2 separate regions of the Homo sapiens genome follow, and region 2 is linked to region 1. The links come from fine-mapping of genetic effects on gene expression. A gene starts in region 1. The other region holds a variant in brackets. All regions are shown on one strand. Distances are between the middles of the regions.

Region 1 (8,331 bases):
ATCTTCCCAGTCCTCCCTGAGAGGCCCTAGACCTGTACACCAACACTCATTCCCAAACACTATGAACCTCAGTTTGACTCTAAAAAAAAGGAACAGAACCAAAAGGACACCAAGGGGTTAAGGAGCAGTGGCTGGTGGTACCAAGGGAGAGGAAGGGGGCTAGAAGCACTTAGAGTTAAGAGGATGGGCGAGGACCAAAGGATAGTGGCAGAAATTAGCAAAGTTTGGGGTGATACAAGCTCCAGCTCCCTTCTCTCTGAGTTTAGGGCAGAAGGGGAGGGGCATTTAAGTGACTCTGAAGAGGAAATAGTGGTTTTTTGTTCTCACAAACAAGGTCTCCACCCTGTCCCTGCCTTTTTTCTTACCTTGCCCTGAACGCCTAGAGTTTCTTTAAGAACAGGAGAGCCCTGGACCACTGAGGTCCTAGGAGACTAACTGGCAGGTTGGCCCTCAGGAAAGACTTTCTACAATAAGGAATTTCTTCCCTCTCTGTTTGCTGCCCTATTCCTCCTGATTTCCCTCCAGTGAAATCCAATCCCTCCCAGAAGCCAGTCAGCAGCAGTTCCTTTATTACCTGACCTTGAGATCCTTCCTGAAGGCTGTGTACATTCTGTTTATCTGTGTCCTGTATCACTGCACTCCTGTGTGTACACCTCTGTTTGCACATGCGTGGCATGGCCATATCTCCACGTGTGTCCAGTACAGATCATCTGTGTACAGGTTGTGGGTACATGTGCCAGGTATCTTCTGTCCCATGAGGAATATTTTCCCCACCGTCCACATGTCCTATCTGCCACTCTGCTCTGCCTCACACCCTATAGGGCCCAGGCTCCCCTCCAGCTGTGACCTGTTCTCCCCTCCCTCCTCACCAATTCTATCCTCAAGCTTCATCAGTGAACCAGACATAAGGAACTTTCCAATAGTACTAGTGTCCAAGGAAGAACTTCCTCCCTTCTCACTACTGCCAGCCAGGGTAGGACACATCTGGGTTTCTTCTTAGACTCACTTGCATTTCCCCAGTCCTATAGTACAGACAACCTCAAAGATTCCAAAAAGGGCAGTTTCATAAATATGACACTTTAACATGAACAGGAATCTCCCTTTCTTGCAGGCCGGGAACCCTGATGCTTTGGCACCCTAGACTGATTTAAAAACAAGAGATAGGCCGGGCGTGGTGGCTCACGCCTGTAATCCCAGCACTTTGGGAGGCCAAGGTGGGCGGATCACCTGAGGTCAGGAGTTCCAGACCAGCCTGGCCAACATGGTGAAACCCCATCTCTGCTAAAAATACAAAAGATTAGCTGGGCGTGGTGGCGGATGCCTGTAATCCCAGCTACTTGGGAGGCTGAGGCAGGAGAATCGCTTGAACCGGAGATTGCAGTGAGCCGAGATCGCCACTGCACTCCAGCCTGGGCAACAAGAGCGAAACTCCGCCTCAAAAAAAACACACACAAAAAAACGAGATAGCAGGGTGTGGTAGCATGTGCCTGTCATCCCAGCTACTGGGGAGGCTGAGGCAGGAGGATCACTTGAGCCCAAGAGTTGCGGCTACAGTGAGCCATGTTTGCACCCCTGCACTCCAGCCTGGGTGACAGGACAAGACCCTGTCTCAAATACAAAACACACACACACACACACACACACACACACACACACACACACAGAGGTTTTTTTTTTTTTTAACAGCCTTGAGATGAGATCACACAAACACTCAAATGTAGCTTCTAGGGGAGGGGAGAACCCAGGAGGCTGGGCTTTCTCTTCTCTTCTCACCACTGGAAGGGAGGAGTAACCAGAAGGAGCGGAAGCTAAAACACGCTGTCCAGAGAGGGGAGCTGTGGTCAGTGGGACGTCAGTGAGTCAGTCATAGGGTTTGTCCTGATGGTGGTGGTGGCAGGTGGTAAGGGTTGGGGAAAAATGAAGAATTAGAGGAAACCCCCAACACCAGCAGGCAGGCTGTACTGTGACTGGACTCTCCCTCAACATCCCCCACTCTGCTCAAAGCTGAGGGACAGAGGTGGATAGTGCTGGGAGGGAAGAGAAGAGAGGGGGAGGAGAAGGAGAGAGGGAAAGGGGCAGTGGAGAGAACAAGGCCATTTCTGTTTCTTTTCCAGGGACCTGACCAGAGCTGGGTGGAGGGAAAGCGTGTGTGTGGGACTTGGCATGAAATGACCAATGATGACGAGAAGTGACCAGGAAATTCCATTCCCTAGGACATTAGGGTCTCTGAAACTTGAGGGTGGGGTCAGAGTGTGAAGAAGACAGGTCAGGGTGAATGTGATGGTAGCGCAGGGCAGTGGGGGATGGGAACAAAGCCAGAAAAGGAAGTAAGAGCCACTGGCGGCCACTCTTCTTTAAAGCAGCCAGAAGAGAGTGGGTTGAGGAAAAATGAAGTCCTGAGCTGGTCAGCCCAGGCGGAAGAGCCACCCGAATCCAACCCCACAGTGAATAGGGAAGGGGCTGAGAAAACAACAGGAGGGATGAGGATTAGACCTCATAAGGCCACGTCCTGAGAGCCAAGTGGTGCTCAGAACTCGACCTCTCTGAGTTCCAAATGGCAAGAGTGAAATATGGAACCGGGAAAGCCACCCCCCGCCCCCACCAAGATCATACTAGGACTTGAGGGTCTCAGAGCTGTTGGGAGGTGAGCAGAAGGGATGGGAAAGAGGTGCCAGGGAGGAAGGATGTACAGGCTAGTTCTCTGGTCCTGTTCGGGCCCCAAACCGGTTCTCCCGGTCCCACCGCCTCTGGCCCTAAGGCCTCCAACCCGCGGCCTGACAAGCCCTCACATGAAGCAGCTGGAGAGAAAGAAAGAATCGAGAGAATGGCATGGGCAATTCTGGCTAGAAGCCCGGGGCAGCAGCTGGTCCCTGTGTGGAGACCCCGAGACATGGAGGGCTGCTGAGGGACTCTGGAGAAGCGGTGTGGACTCCATATTTCAGCCAAGTGACAGGCCCAACACCAACCTTCCCTTCCCCAGGAAAGGTCTTCTGGGGGCTTAAGAGGAAAGAGGGCTAGGCCCTAAGCCTCCCCTCCCCAAATATATTCAATCACACAGATTCCGTATCTGTCTCCCCCCACTACACAACTCTACCTAGAAGTTCTCTGCTGTTCTCAACCCTTAACCGGACTGGGACCTCTCTGGGAATCTTTCGGACCCTCTCCCTCCCACCTCCCCCAACATTCCAGTTCCTTCTTTTCCTTCTACTCTTCAGCGGCCTCAGCCTGCGCACCCCAGGAGCGTGGATGACTACGGCCACCCCGGGCGCGCACCCCTTTCCCACCACCCCAGCATCTCTGCAGCCCAGGACACCCGCCTCCCCCACACCCCGCATCCGGTGTGTCTCCGCCTGGCCCGGCCGGCGCGGCAGGCGGGCCAGGGGACCAACTGCACGGCCTCACCTGCTCTTCTCCACCATCCAGACGTTCAGCTACAGCTGGTGGGGGTGAGGGACTCTGCTCCGTGGCCGCCAGTGTGGGCTTCCCGGGCTAGCTCTGCGGCGAGGTGGGGGAGCCGAGTACGAGCCGGCAGAGGTGGGGCCGGCTGAGGGCGGAAGCGGCGGCGACGCGATTACGAAACCCGTCCGGCTCGGAGCCCGGCGCACTGCTCCCCTCTGGACTGCGGAGGCACTGCACTGCGCGGGACGTGGGAGGGTGCCTCTGCAGCCCCTCAAGGCCGCCGCCCCTGCGGGGAGAACTGGAGAATGCGGACACCTAGATGAGGCCCTGGCACCCAAGCTGGGGCCCCCGGAATCTCACGTTCCCTTTACTCGCCAGGCATTTCGGGGCAAAACGAAGCGGAGCCCCCCAAACCCCCAGACCTAACCAAGTTCAGAGATTCGCAGAAGCACGCCCCCCACCCCAAATTTATTGTGCTCTACCCAAAATGGAATAGGACTAGGTTTATTTACCCATTGTGAGGGTAGAGAGGCGAGTCTGGAGGAGCAGGGATTGGGAGAAGGGGTGGAAAAATACTCTGATTCTTAAAAATACTTTGTAACCTAAAGTCCTTAAATTGTGGAAGAAAGGAATACTCCTCCTTTCCATTGTAGTCTAGAGTTAAGATTTCAAATCCATAAATTAGAGGACCTAAAATTAGAGGGCAATTAACTGCTCATTCATTGGGCCCCCAGTCAGCACGGGGGTGCTGGAAGAGATCGGGAATAATAGCGCAGACCAATGAGCCTAGGGAGATGCTTTCATCGTCTCTCCTTCCCTCAAGTGTTCTGGAACCTATCATTTGAATTAGCCGAGTCAGGCAGGAGGGGGCGGGGAATCCTTCCGCCCTTCTTAGGAGGGGCTGCATTGCAGGGGGAGAGTGAACTGACAGACTCAGTCACTGAAGAGGGAAAAGGAGTGAGAAGACAAAGCCGTCAAAGCCCCAACAGCTTTGTATTTCTCCAGCCCGGCGCAGACCCCGGAGCTCCCGAGGCACTCCCTCCATCTTTGGAACACGCCAGTAATTGATTGATAACAGGTAAACCAAACTGAGGGAGGGGGCAGGGGGCTGCAAAGATAGAAGAGCGGCTGCTTATGGTTAGATTGAAAGACCCCACATGAGGTGGGGGACAGCTGAAGAGGAGAGAAGGGGGCGCTATGAACAATGGGTAGTTATTTCTTCACAGCATCCATGCCTTGTTACCTTATACAGACCATTAATCTCTAACAATTTACTTGTAGTTATTTCTCAGCACCTACCTCATTTCAAGTATCCTTTTCTGTAATTTATTGTCCTGTGTATTTAATATCTTCAGTCTACTTATCTTCCTTTTCAAACCATAATTTGTTTTACCAGCTGTTTAATTTTTAGTCCTACTGTATCTCTCTGTCCTCTACTTCCCTATACTTGCAATTTTTTTCTGTAGTGTTCTATGTTTCTCTGTAGGAGGGAGTTTGGGAGGGGGTTATATGGGATAATGTTGGGTGTAATCCTGACCTTTCTTTGGATAATCTCTTTCATTCCACCTCGAATCTTTGCTCCAAAGAAAGAGGCAGCCTAGGGTAGGAAAGGTGGGGGCCTCTGTGTTGGAGAACTGCCTGATTCCATAGTGAAATCAGTATAGCCCACAGGAGCTAGGTATGGGGACAGATTCTGGAAAAGAATGATTTGCAGCTCAGTGGAATTGGTGGAGGAATGCTAGTAGGAAAATCCAAGCTCTGACTGAGGCACACATTATGAGATGTCAGAGAGGTTCTGCTCCCCTCTACCACCACCACCACCTTGTCCTTCCCCCTTCCCCATGGTGGCAGCATGACACAGCAAGGCCCTGTTGAGTAGGCCTTGGATGCCCACAAAGGGTCTGGACAAAGGATATTTGGGCGTGTCTGTGTGGCTCCGAGAGTGTATCTTTCTAATCTATACATTTGCTAATCATGTATCTCTAAGAACAGAGTGATAATTAGATATTGCCTTTGCCTAAAATACCCGGATAATTTAAAGTGAAGGATAGTGGGAAGCATTTATTGAACATATATTGTGGTACAAGGCACTGTCAAAACCCTTTAAGTAAATGATACCATTTAAGATAATGAAAGATGTAAAGATAGATGAAGTAGGGCTGGAGAGCATTTGTGGAGGGGAAGGGGAAGCTAGCCAAAAAAGGATCTTTTGCGAAATTTGGAGTATTTGATAATTAAATCCATACTATATTAAATCAAAAATGTCATTACTACTTACATTAGTGAATAGCATTTTAACTTCAATTTTCTGTGTAGTATTACTTTATGTTCTTGACTTGATTTTAATGCCACGTATGTTTGCATGCATGTCTTTCTTGAATGTATTTGGTACCCTGTGTACATGTCTCTGGGTCAATGACATAGAGATTTTAGGCCTTTTGAGTTAATATTTCATAAAATTTGCTTTAGCTTTTTAAATTGCAAGATAGCTCTACCAAACACTCAGGGACTGTTTGAGCAGTTTTTTATACATACTCTGGTTGTAAGAAAAGGAGTCAGTTTGTCGAAGAGCTTTTTTTTTTTTCTCAGATTCTAGCTTGCTCTACTGCCCTTTGCTTTTCCCCATTCAGATCACAATTACAGGAACAATCACCTAAACCACGGAAAATCTATTCTTCAGCAACTAAAAATTCTTTTAAGTTTTGGGAATACTGGTATAGGGTTATATAAAGCTGTTGGCAACTATCCATGTACAACACAAAAAGGGATCAGATTGGGAATTATGAGATCTGGATTCTATACAAACTGGCTGGAAGTCTTCCCAAGTCATTAATTTCTAAGATGTCTTCTAGTTTTAAAATTCTATGATTTTTTCCCCCCATGATTCTATTTTTTTTTTTTTTTTAAGATGGAGTCTCGCTCTGTTGCCCAGGCTGGAGTGCAGTGGTGCAATCTTGGCTCACTGCAACCTCCACCTCCCCAGTTCAAGCGATTCTCCTGCCTCAGCCTCCCGAGTAGCTGGGATTATAGGCGCCTGCCACCACACCTGGCTAATTTTTGTATTTTTAGTAAAGACGGGGTTTCACTATCTTGGCCAGGCTGGTCTCGAATTCCTGACCTTGTGATCCACCTGCCTCGGCCTCCCAAAGTGCTGAGATTACAGGCGTGTGCCACCGCGCCTGGCCCCATGATTCTATTTTTTAAAGAGCCTATAATGTGGCCTGCATTATACTAAGCTCATTCTGGAGAAGACTTGTCAGGTAGGATAGAGAAAAGAACCCAGCTAGCTGTGAAAATAACTGGTAACAGTAAGAATCCCTGTAGCCACAAGTCCATAACAGTATTGACTCCTAGGTATGCTTCTTAGAATCTCTATAGTCCCAGATTTAAGCAGTGGGTGGTTGGTTAATGGATACAACCATTTTTTGTAGCTCTCTTTCTGCACACGTCTCTGCAAAGTACTATGGAGATTATCAGAGTTGAGTATCATAGGATGATGACCTCACCTTTCCAACATGCTCCCCGACCCTGCTGCAATCCCGGCATCACCCTCCTTCTAAGCAGCTTCTCTGCTGAGTAATGCTCAGTTCCCAGGGTTTATTTTGGAACTTAAACTAAGAAAAAGAACAACTCAGAATTCACTTTCAACATTAAAAACATCCTAGCCTACCCACTCACCATTCCTGAAGCCCCCACACTCTCACACATCACTGTGTTCTAGATTAACACTTTCTTTTTCTGCCTTAGTACAGTCATTTCACATTATACTGGAGCATTTTGGAACCTATTTAAGGCCATTATTTAGGAGTCTCTGGCCTGGTGAGACCCAATAGGGTGTGTTGGAGAAAGGCCTTTTGAAACTTGGGGTTCTGTTTTTGGAGGTGATAGAATGTTCTTTCTGCTCCTTTGGGAACATTTCAACTAATGCTTCTTTTTTTAATTTTTATTTATTTATTATTATTATTATTGAGACGGAGTCTTGCTCTTTCGCCCAGGCTGGAGTGCAGTGGCGCTATCTCAGCTCACCGCAAGCTCCGCCTCCCAGGTTCGCGCCATTCTCCTGCCTCAGCCTCCCAAGTAGCTGGGACTACAGGCGCCCACCACCGCGCCCGGCTTAATATTTGTACTTTTAGTAGAGACGGGGTTTCACCGTGTTAGCCAGGATGGTCTCGATCTCCTGACCTCGTGATCCACCCGCCTCGGCCTCCCAAAGTGCTGGGATTACAGGCGTAAGCCACCACGCCCGACCACAACTAATGCTTCTTGACCCTTGGCTAGTAAGTAGCAGGGTGGAGGCTGTAGGCAGCTCTAATAGTCCTAAAATATCAGGCAGGGCTTGGGTAGAATGAGTAGAGAAAGTGATAGATCCATTAACGCATGGAAGAGTATCTGATTCTGTTAAAATACCTTCTTCCAATCTGAACTTTACTTTAAATCCAAATGGATTTCCAATCCATTTGCTCTCATTATCATCAGTATACTCGAGCACTGGGATCAGAGAAAAGAGATCCCTGTTACAGCATAGGAAAGTTATTTATTTATTTATTTATTATTACTTTTTTTGAGATGGAGTTTCGCTCTTGTTGCCCAGGCTGGAGTGCAATGGCGAGATCTCGGCTCACTGCAACCTCCACCTCCCAGGTTCAAGCAATTTTCCTGCCTCAGCCTCCCAAATAACTGGGATTACAGGCATGCGCCACCTCGCCTGGCTAATTTTGTATTTTTAATAGAGACAGGATTTCACCATGTTGGTTGGGCTGGTCTTGAACTCCTCACCTCCTGATCTGCCTGCCTCGGCCTCCCAAAGTGCTGGGATTATAGGCGTAAGCCACTGCACCTGGCTAGGAAAGTTCTTTTAGCACCTAGGTTTTGTTCTGAAGGAGAGGTAGGCTAGAGAGAAATGGATTGTTAAGGCTTACCTGTGGGCTAATA
Region 2 (8,331 bases), 49 kb after region 1:
ATTTAATATAAACATATATGTATATATATATATGTTTGGGGTTTCTTTTGATACAGACAGGATCTTATTCTGTTATTCTGTCACCCAGGCTGGAGTGCAGTGGCACAATCAGAGCTCACTGCAGCTTCAACTTCTGGGCTCAAGTGATCCTCCCACATCAGCCTCCTGAGTAGCTAGGACTAAAGGTGCATGCCACCACGCTCAATTAATTTTTCAAATTTGGGGGGATGGTCTCACTGCTCAGTCTGGTCTTCAACTCCCAGCCTCAAGCAGTCCTCCTGCCGTGGCCTCCCAAAGTGCTGGGATTATGGGCGTGAGCCACCATACCCAGCCAGCTATTATTCTTGATTTATCAGAGGAAAAAAGCCATCTAACATTTTTGTCTATCAAACTTCAATATTTTGACTACTTCACATATTATTCTGTGAATTCACTATTAAATATCCCTGTTTTCTTATAGAAATGATCTACTGTAATTTATGGTTATTTTAGATTTTTTTTTTTTTTGAGATGGAATCTCGCTCTTGTCACCCAGGCTGGAGTGCAATGGCGTGATCTTTGCTCACTGCAACCTCCGCCTCCCAGGTTCAAGCAATTCCCCTGCCTCAGCCTTCCAAGTAGCTGGGATTACAGGCGCCCACCAACACGCCCAGCTAATTTTTGTATTTTTAGTAGAGATGGGGTTTCACCATGTTGGCCAGGCTGGTCTCGAACCCCTGACCTCAGGTGATCTGCCCACCTCGGCCTCCCAAAGTGCTGGGATTACAGGCGTGAGCCACCGTGCCCAGCCATTTTAGACTTTCAAGATACTTTCTGAAAAAAAAAGGGTTCCAATATCAAATATGTTGGGGAAACAGCATATCTGGTTTTTTTGTTTGTTTTTTGAGACAGAGTCTCGCTCTGTCGCTCAGGCTGGAGTGCAGTGGCTCCATCTCGACTCACTGCAACCTCTGCCTCCCAGGCTCAAGCGATTCTCGTGCCTCAGCCTCCAAAGTAGCTGGAACTACAGGCACGTGCCACCATGCCTGACTAATTTTTGTACTTTTAGTAGAGACAGTGTTTTGCCATGTTGGCCAGGCTGGTCTCTAACTCCTGGCCTCAAGTGATTCGCCCATCTTGGCCTCCCAAAGTGCTGAGATTACAGGCGTGAGCCACTGTGCCCAGCCGAAACAGAGTATCTTATACTCTGTTGGAGAATCACACCCTGTTGGAAAATCACAATGTTTATTAGCCTATTGAAGTCTCTGATACTCCTACAAAACAAAAAAGTTTAAGCATGTTTAAACCAGAATTTTGAAAACGTATTTATACATAGAATCCATCTTTAGTGAAAGTTATTAATACCTCAGTGAACACATTTTACAAAATACTGTTCTAATGCATTCTGTTTTCTTTTCTCCTCTGACTTAGCATTGTTCACAAAACCTTTTGCGAACTGTTGAATCTCACTTTTTTTTTTCAAATGTTCCTCTCCCTGAATGTTGTCAGGTTCAAGGAGGTTGAAATTGCTATACTCCTATGTTTTTAAAAAGCTGAAATTTTAAATTTGCTTTTGTCATCTCTAGCCAATACAGAGGAAATTATAGAAGGAAATTCCGTTGACTCATCAATCCAGCAAGTAATGGGGAGTGGAGGCCAGAGGGTCATCACCATAGTGACTGATGGAGTCCCTCTGGGTAATATCCAAACTTCAATCCCTACTGGAGGCATTGGCCAGCCATTTATTGTAACTGTGCAAGATGGACAGCAAGGTGAGTTATCTCTTGTAGACAATTGTTTATTAAAAGATATTTTAGATACTCCATACTCACCTAAAAATGAGGCATTAAGACAAATAGTGGAAGTGGGAGATTGCCAGATGCAAGTTGGGGCAAAGAAGCTCTGAAAAAGAAAAAGAAACGGAACCAGACTGGCAAAAGCTAATTGCCTAATATGTATAAAATCTGTAGTAAAAACCAGTTGATCTGGTGGAAAAAATAACAAATAATATGAACCAATAGTTCACAGAAAAAAAATGTACTGATGGCTCTTTTTTTTTTTTTTTCTTCAGAAGGGATTCTCACTCTCTCACCCAGGCTGGAGTGCAGTGGTGCAATCTCAGCTCACTGCAGGCTCCGCCTCCTGGGTTCACGCACCCGGGTTCACCGCGCCCGGCCCTGATGGCTCTTAAAAATATGAAAATAGCTGGGTGAGGCGGCTCACGGCTGTAATCCCAGCACTTTGGGAGGCTGACGCAGGAGGATCACTTGAGAGCAGGAGTTCAAGACCAGCCTGGCCAAAATAGCAAAACCCCATCTCTACTAAAAATACAAAAATTAGCCAGGCATGGTGGCGCACGCCTATAGTCCCAGCTACTCAGGAGGCTGAAGTGGAGGATCACTTGAGCCCAGGAGGTTGAGGCTGTACTGAGCCGTGATTGTGCTACTGCACACCAGCCTGGATGACAGAGTGAGACTCTGTCTTTAAAAAAAAAAAGGAAAGAAAGAAAAAGAAAATATTTTCGACCTACTTCATTCATAACGAGAAGTGCAAATACTGTACTGACATACCATTATAACACTATGTTGTTAAAGGTATAGGGAAACAAGCACTCTTATAAATCACTTGTGAGAGTGCACATTAATGGATCCTCTAAAAAGGATATTGGTAATATCTGTAGGTATTAAAGATGTACATAAAGATGTACCTTTGGGTTTTTTTGTTTGCTTGTTTGTTTGAGATGGAGTTCCTCTTTGTTGCCCAGGCTGGAGCGCAGTGGCAGGATCTTGGCTCACTGCAACCTCCAGCTCCCTGGTTCAAGTAATTCTTGTGCCTCAGCCTCCTGAGTAGCTGGGACTATAGGCGCACACCAACACGCCCAGTTAATTTTTGTGTATTTTTAGTAGAGACAGGGTTTTACCATGTTAGCCAGGCTGGTCTTGAACTCCAGACCTCAAGTGATCCTCCCGCCTAAGCCTCCCAGAGTGCTGGGATTATAGGTATGAGTCATCACACCCAGTGATGTTGTGTACCTTTTGGTTAAACAGTTCTTTTTTCTTTTTTGTGTGTGTAACTGGGTCTTGTTCTGTCACCCAGGCTTGTGTGCGGTGGTGCAATCATGGGTCACTGCAGCCTCGACCTCCTGGGCTCAAGCTATCCTCCCGCCTCAGCCACCTGAGAAGCTGGGGCTACAGTTCCACGCCACCATGCCCAGCTATATTCAGACTGAGGCTATACATTAGTATACTGAGGCATTACATTAGTTGCTTCCAGGGAGGGCAATTGGGTACTAAGGATGAGTGGGAGGCTTTTCAATGTATATGCTTTTATAGTCTTGATGTTTTTAATCATTTAATGTATCAGTTATTCAAAAAAGACATAGTTAAAATTTTTTGAAAAGAGGAAGCCCATCATTACAACTCCATGCCTTAAAAATACTGGAGGTTGGCCAGGCACAATGGCTTACATATGTAATCCTGTAATCCTAGCACTTTGGGAGACCAAGGCAGGAGGATTGCTTGAGACCAAGAGTTCCAAATCAGCTGGGGCAACATAGCAAGACCCCCTCATCTCTACGCAATTTTTTTAAAAAATAGCCTGGTTGATGGCACGTGCTTATAGTCCCAACTACTCAGGAGGTTTTGGCAGGAGGATCAGTTGAGCCCAGGAGCTCAAGGTCGCAGTATGCTACCATAATCATGCCACTGCACTCCAGCCTGGGCAACAGAGCAAAACATTGTCTCTAAAAAATAAAAATGTATATTGGAGGTTGAAACGAAGGGTACTGGTATAATTTCCTTTCTTAATGTCACTAAAATTTTGACTTGGCTTAAATGATTGTGGGGAT[TTA/T]TATATATATATATATATACACACAAATATATATATATACACAAATATATATATATATATATATATTTTTTTTTTTGAGTCAGAATCTTGCTCTGTCACTCCAGGCTGGAGTGCAGTGGCACAATCTCGGCTCACTGCAACCTCCACCTCCTGGGTTCAAGCGATTCTCCTGCCTCAGCCTCCTGAGTAGCTGGGATTACAGGTGTGTGCCACCACGCCCGGCTAATTTTTTTGTATTTTTAGTAGAGACGGGGTTTCACTATGTTGGTCAGCCTGGTCTCGAACTCCTGACCTCGTGATCCACCCTCCTCGGCCTCCCAAAGTGCTGGAATTACAAGCGTGAGCCACCACACCCGGCCTATAGTTTTTTTTTGTTTGTTTTGTTTTTGTTTTTGAGATAGGATCTCCCTTTGTTGCCCAGGCTAGAATGCAGTGGCATGATTATGGCGCACTGCAGCCTCGACTTCCCAAGCAACCTTCTCACCTCAGCCTCCCAAGTAGCTGGGACTACAGGCATGCACCACCACACCTGGCTAATTTTTTTATTTTTTTAATTTTAGACAGGGACACAGTCTGTCACCCAGGCTGGAGTGCAGTGGCGTGATCTCGGCACACTGCAGTCTCCGCCTTCCGGGTTCAAGTGATTCTCCTGCCTCAGCCACCGGAGTAGATGGGATTACAATCATGTGCCACCATGCCCAGCTAATTTTTTTTTTTTTTTTTTTTTTTTTTTTTTTTTTTTTGCAGAGACAGGGTTTCGCCATGTTGGCCAGGCTGGTCACTAGCTCCTGAACTCAAGTGATCTGCCTGCCTTGGCCTCCCAAAGTGCTGGGATTACAGGTGTGAGTCACGACCCCTGGTCTTTTTTTATTTTTTGTACAGACTGGGTCTTACTATGTTGCCCGTGTTGGGATTTATAATTTTTTAATTATTTCAACTGATGGATCAGAAAGTATGGGAAGATAAGAATTAAACTTATTATAATCCAAACTTTGGTATCATAAATTCTAATTTATGCATTGCTGATATTTTTGTGAACATAGTTATCATTTTAAGTTTTTAGGGCTCATTGGGTAGGTGAGAGACTCTGCTTATAATGGAAATAAATAAATGAAAACTGAGTTGTTTTGGAGAAAAAGAATAGAATTGAGGTTTTACCTAAATAAACTATACTACTTTTTTATTTTTATTTTTTAAATTTATGTATTTATTTATTTAGAGGTGCAATCTCAGCTCCCTGCAACCTCAACCTCCTAGGCTCAAGCAGTCCTCCCACCTCAAGTCCCAAGTAGCTAGGACCACAGGTGCAAGCCACCACACCCAGCTAATTTTTTACTTTTTCGTAGAGACAAGGTCTTCCTATGTTACCCAGCCTGGCCTCAAACTCCTGGGCTCAAGCAGTCCTTCTACCTTGGCTTCCTAAAGTTCTAGGATTACAGGCATGAGCCACTGTGCTCAGCCTATACTACTTTTTACAAATATGTTTAAGGCCCAAAGAAGGAAAACAGATTTCATGAGTTATCTGCAGAAAAATTTAAATCCCAGACTAAACTTCCATTTCTACTCAACATATATCTAAGCTGCTTTCCACTGACATCAGTTGATGAGTTTATAAAGAAATACAAACCAATTTTTAAATCTGCCAAACCCAATGATTATGTAAATCTTCTGTTTTTTTGTTTTTGTTTTTAAATTTTTGTCCAGACATGGTAGCTCACACCTGTAATCCCAGCACTTTGGGAGGCTGAGGCGGGAGGAGCGCTTGAGGTCGGGATTTCAAGACCAGCTTGCCAACACGGTGAAACCCCATGTCTACTGAAAAAATACAAATATTAGCCAGATGTGGTGGCCCCAGCCTGGAGTGCAGTGGCACGATCATGACTTACGGCAGTCTTGATATTCAGGACCCAAGTGATCCTCCTGCTACAGCTCCCGAAATTTTTTTTTTCTTTTTTTTTTTTTGAGACGGAGTCTTGCTCTGTCACCCAGGCTAGAGTGCAGTGGCGCAATCTCGGCTCACTGCAACCTCCACCTCCTGGGTTCAAGCAATTCTCCAACCTCAGCCTCCTGAGTAGCTGGGATTACAAGGCGCCCACCACCGCCCCCCACTAATTTTTTTTTTCTTTTTTTTCTTTTTTTTTGAGACAGAGTCTCGCTCTGTCACCCAGGCTGGAGTGCAGTGGCGTGATCTCGGCTCACCGCAAGCTCCACCTCCCGGGTTGACGCCATTCTCCTGCCTCAGCCTCCTGAGTAGCTGGGACTACAGGCGCCTGCCACCACGCCCGGCTAATTTTTTTTGTATTTTTAGTAGAGATGGGGTTTCACTGTGGTCTCGATCTCCTGACCTCGTGATCCACCCGCCTCGGCCTCCCAAAGTGCTGGGATTACAGGTGTGAGCCACCGCGCCCGGCCTAATTTTTGTATTTTTAGTAGAGACAGGATTTCACCATGGTCTCGAACTCCTGACCTTGTGACCCACCTGCCTCGGCCTCCCAAAGTGCTGGGATTACAGGCATGAGCCACTGTGCCCGGCCTTTAATTTTCATATATGAAGAGCTAACATGGTTTTTAATTGGGTGCATGCCTTGGATAATCCATTCAAGAGAGATCACTTAGTCCAATTTAATGAAACCTATATCCTGTGGCTGGGCGCAGTGGCTCACACCTGTAATCCCAGCACTTTGGGAGGCCGAGGCGGGCGGATCACGAGGTCAGGAGATCGAGACCATCCTGGCTAACATGGTGAAACCCTGACTCTACTAAAAATACCAAAAATTAGCTGGGCGTGGTGGTGGGCGCCCGTAGTCCCAGCTACTCGGGAGGCTGAGGCAGGAGAATGGCATGAACCCGGGAGGTGGAGGTTGCAGTGAGCCGAAATCACGCCACTGCACTCCAGCCTGGGCGACAGAGCGAGACTCCATCTCAAAAAAAAAAAAAAAAAAAAAAAACCTATATCCTTCATGTACTGATGGAAAGGCTGACGGTATATATTGAGGCCATATTTCCGGATCAGACTGTGCTGATTTTTTCTTTTTGTTGTTGTTTTTGTTTTTGTTTTTTGAGATAGAGTCTCACTCTGTCGCCCAGGCTGGAGTGCAATGGTGTGGTCTCAGCTCACTGCAACCTCTGCCTCCCGGATTCAAGCGATTCTCCTGCCTCAGCCTCCTGAGTAGCTAGAATTATAGGCGTTTCCCACCATGCCCGGCTAATTTTTTGTATTTTTAGTAGAGACAGGGTTTCACCATGTTGGTCAGGCGGGTCTTGAACTCCTGACCTCATGATCTGCCGGCCTCGGCCTCCCAAAGCACTGGCATTACAGGTGTGAGCCACCGCACCTGGCCGACTATGCTGGTTTGAGCAGACATGACAAGAGCAAGAACCCTGGCCAAATTTTTGTGGGTGGCTCCAGTAGAGCTGCTGGTAACCCATCTTGCTCTCAAGAGTGCAACGAGGTAAAAGGAAGGAGCTCCCGAATTTTTTTTTTCTTTTTGAGACAGAGTCTCGTTCTATCACCAGGCTAGAGTGCAGTGGCATGGTCTCGGCTCACTGCAATCTCTGCCTCCCAGGTTCAAGTGATTCCCCTGCCTCAGCCTCCTGAGTAGCTGGGACTACAGGTGTGCACCACCACGCCTGGCTAATTTTTTTTTTTTTTGTATTTTAGTAGAGACAGGGTTTCACCATGTTGGCCAGGATGGTCTTGATCTCTTGACCTAGTGATGTGCCCACCTCAGCCCCTAAAGTGTTGGGATTATAAGCATGAGCTACTGCGCCTAGCCCCTCAATTTTTTTTTTTAATAGAAATGAGGTCTTGCTAAGCTTCCCAGGCTGGTCTCAGACTCCTAGACTCAAGCTTTCCTCCCACTTTGGCCTCCCAAAATGCTGTGATTGGCCGGGTGCGGTGGCTCACACCTGTAATCCCAGCACTTTGGGAGGCCGAGGTGGACAGATCATGAGGTCAGGAGATCGAGACCATCCTGGCTAACGCGGTGAAACCCTGTCTCTACTAAAAATACAAAAAAATTAGCCAGGCCTGGTGGCGTGCACCTGTAGTCCCTGCTACTCCGGAGGCTGAGTCAGGAGAATGGGGTGAACCCCGGAGGCGGAGCTTGCAGTGAGCAGAGATCGTGCCACTGCACTCCAACCTGGGCAACAGAGGGAGACTCCAACTGCAAAAAAAAAAAAAAAAAAAATGCTGTGATTACAGGCATGAGCTACCGTGTCTGGCCAAATCTTCTGTTTTAAAATAATCATAATATATCCTAAAACGTAAATATAATTTTTAACTTTTTATTTTTAGATCATTAAAGATTCAGTACAGTTCTAAGAAATAATACAGAGAAATCTATTGCTGGGATTACAGGCACATGCCACCATGCCCACCTAATTTTTTGTATTTTTGGTAGAGACAGGGTTTTGCCATGTTGGCCAAGCTGGTCTCGAACTCCTGACCTCAGGTGATCCGCCCACCTTGGCCTCCCAAAGTGCTGGGATTACAGGCATGAG

What was found. PIP is the estimated chance that this variant, and not a neighbour inherited with it, causes the effect.
Region 2: its variant is fine-mapped to the expression of CDC42SE1 in CD4 T cells (CEDAR, PIP 0.95).

What each region holds. Positions count from the first base shown.
Region 1 is chr1:151,056,077-151,064,407 of GRCh38, forward strand. It overlaps CDC42SE1 (CDC42 small effector 1), which reads right to left and starts at 3,546. Exons shown (of 5, transcript NM_020239.4): 1 at 3,403-3,546. It overlaps MLLT11 (MLLT11 transcription factor 7 cofactor), which reads left to right and starts at 4,321. Exons shown (of 2, transcript NM_006818.4): 1 at 4,321-4,477. RefSeq lists silencers at 1,884-1,943, 1,954-2,003 and an enhancer at 3,867-4,458.
Region 2 is chr1:151,105,472-151,113,802 of GRCh38, forward strand. GABPB2 (GA binding protein transcription factor subunit beta 2) reads left to right here. Exons shown (of 9, transcript NM_144618.3): 7 at 1,566-1,751. It also overlaps the pseudogene RPS29P29. Among named protein-coding and RNA genes, the nearest start is that of SEMA6C, 37 kb to the right of the region's middle. The variant TTA/T (reference allele first, on the strand shown) is at 3,827.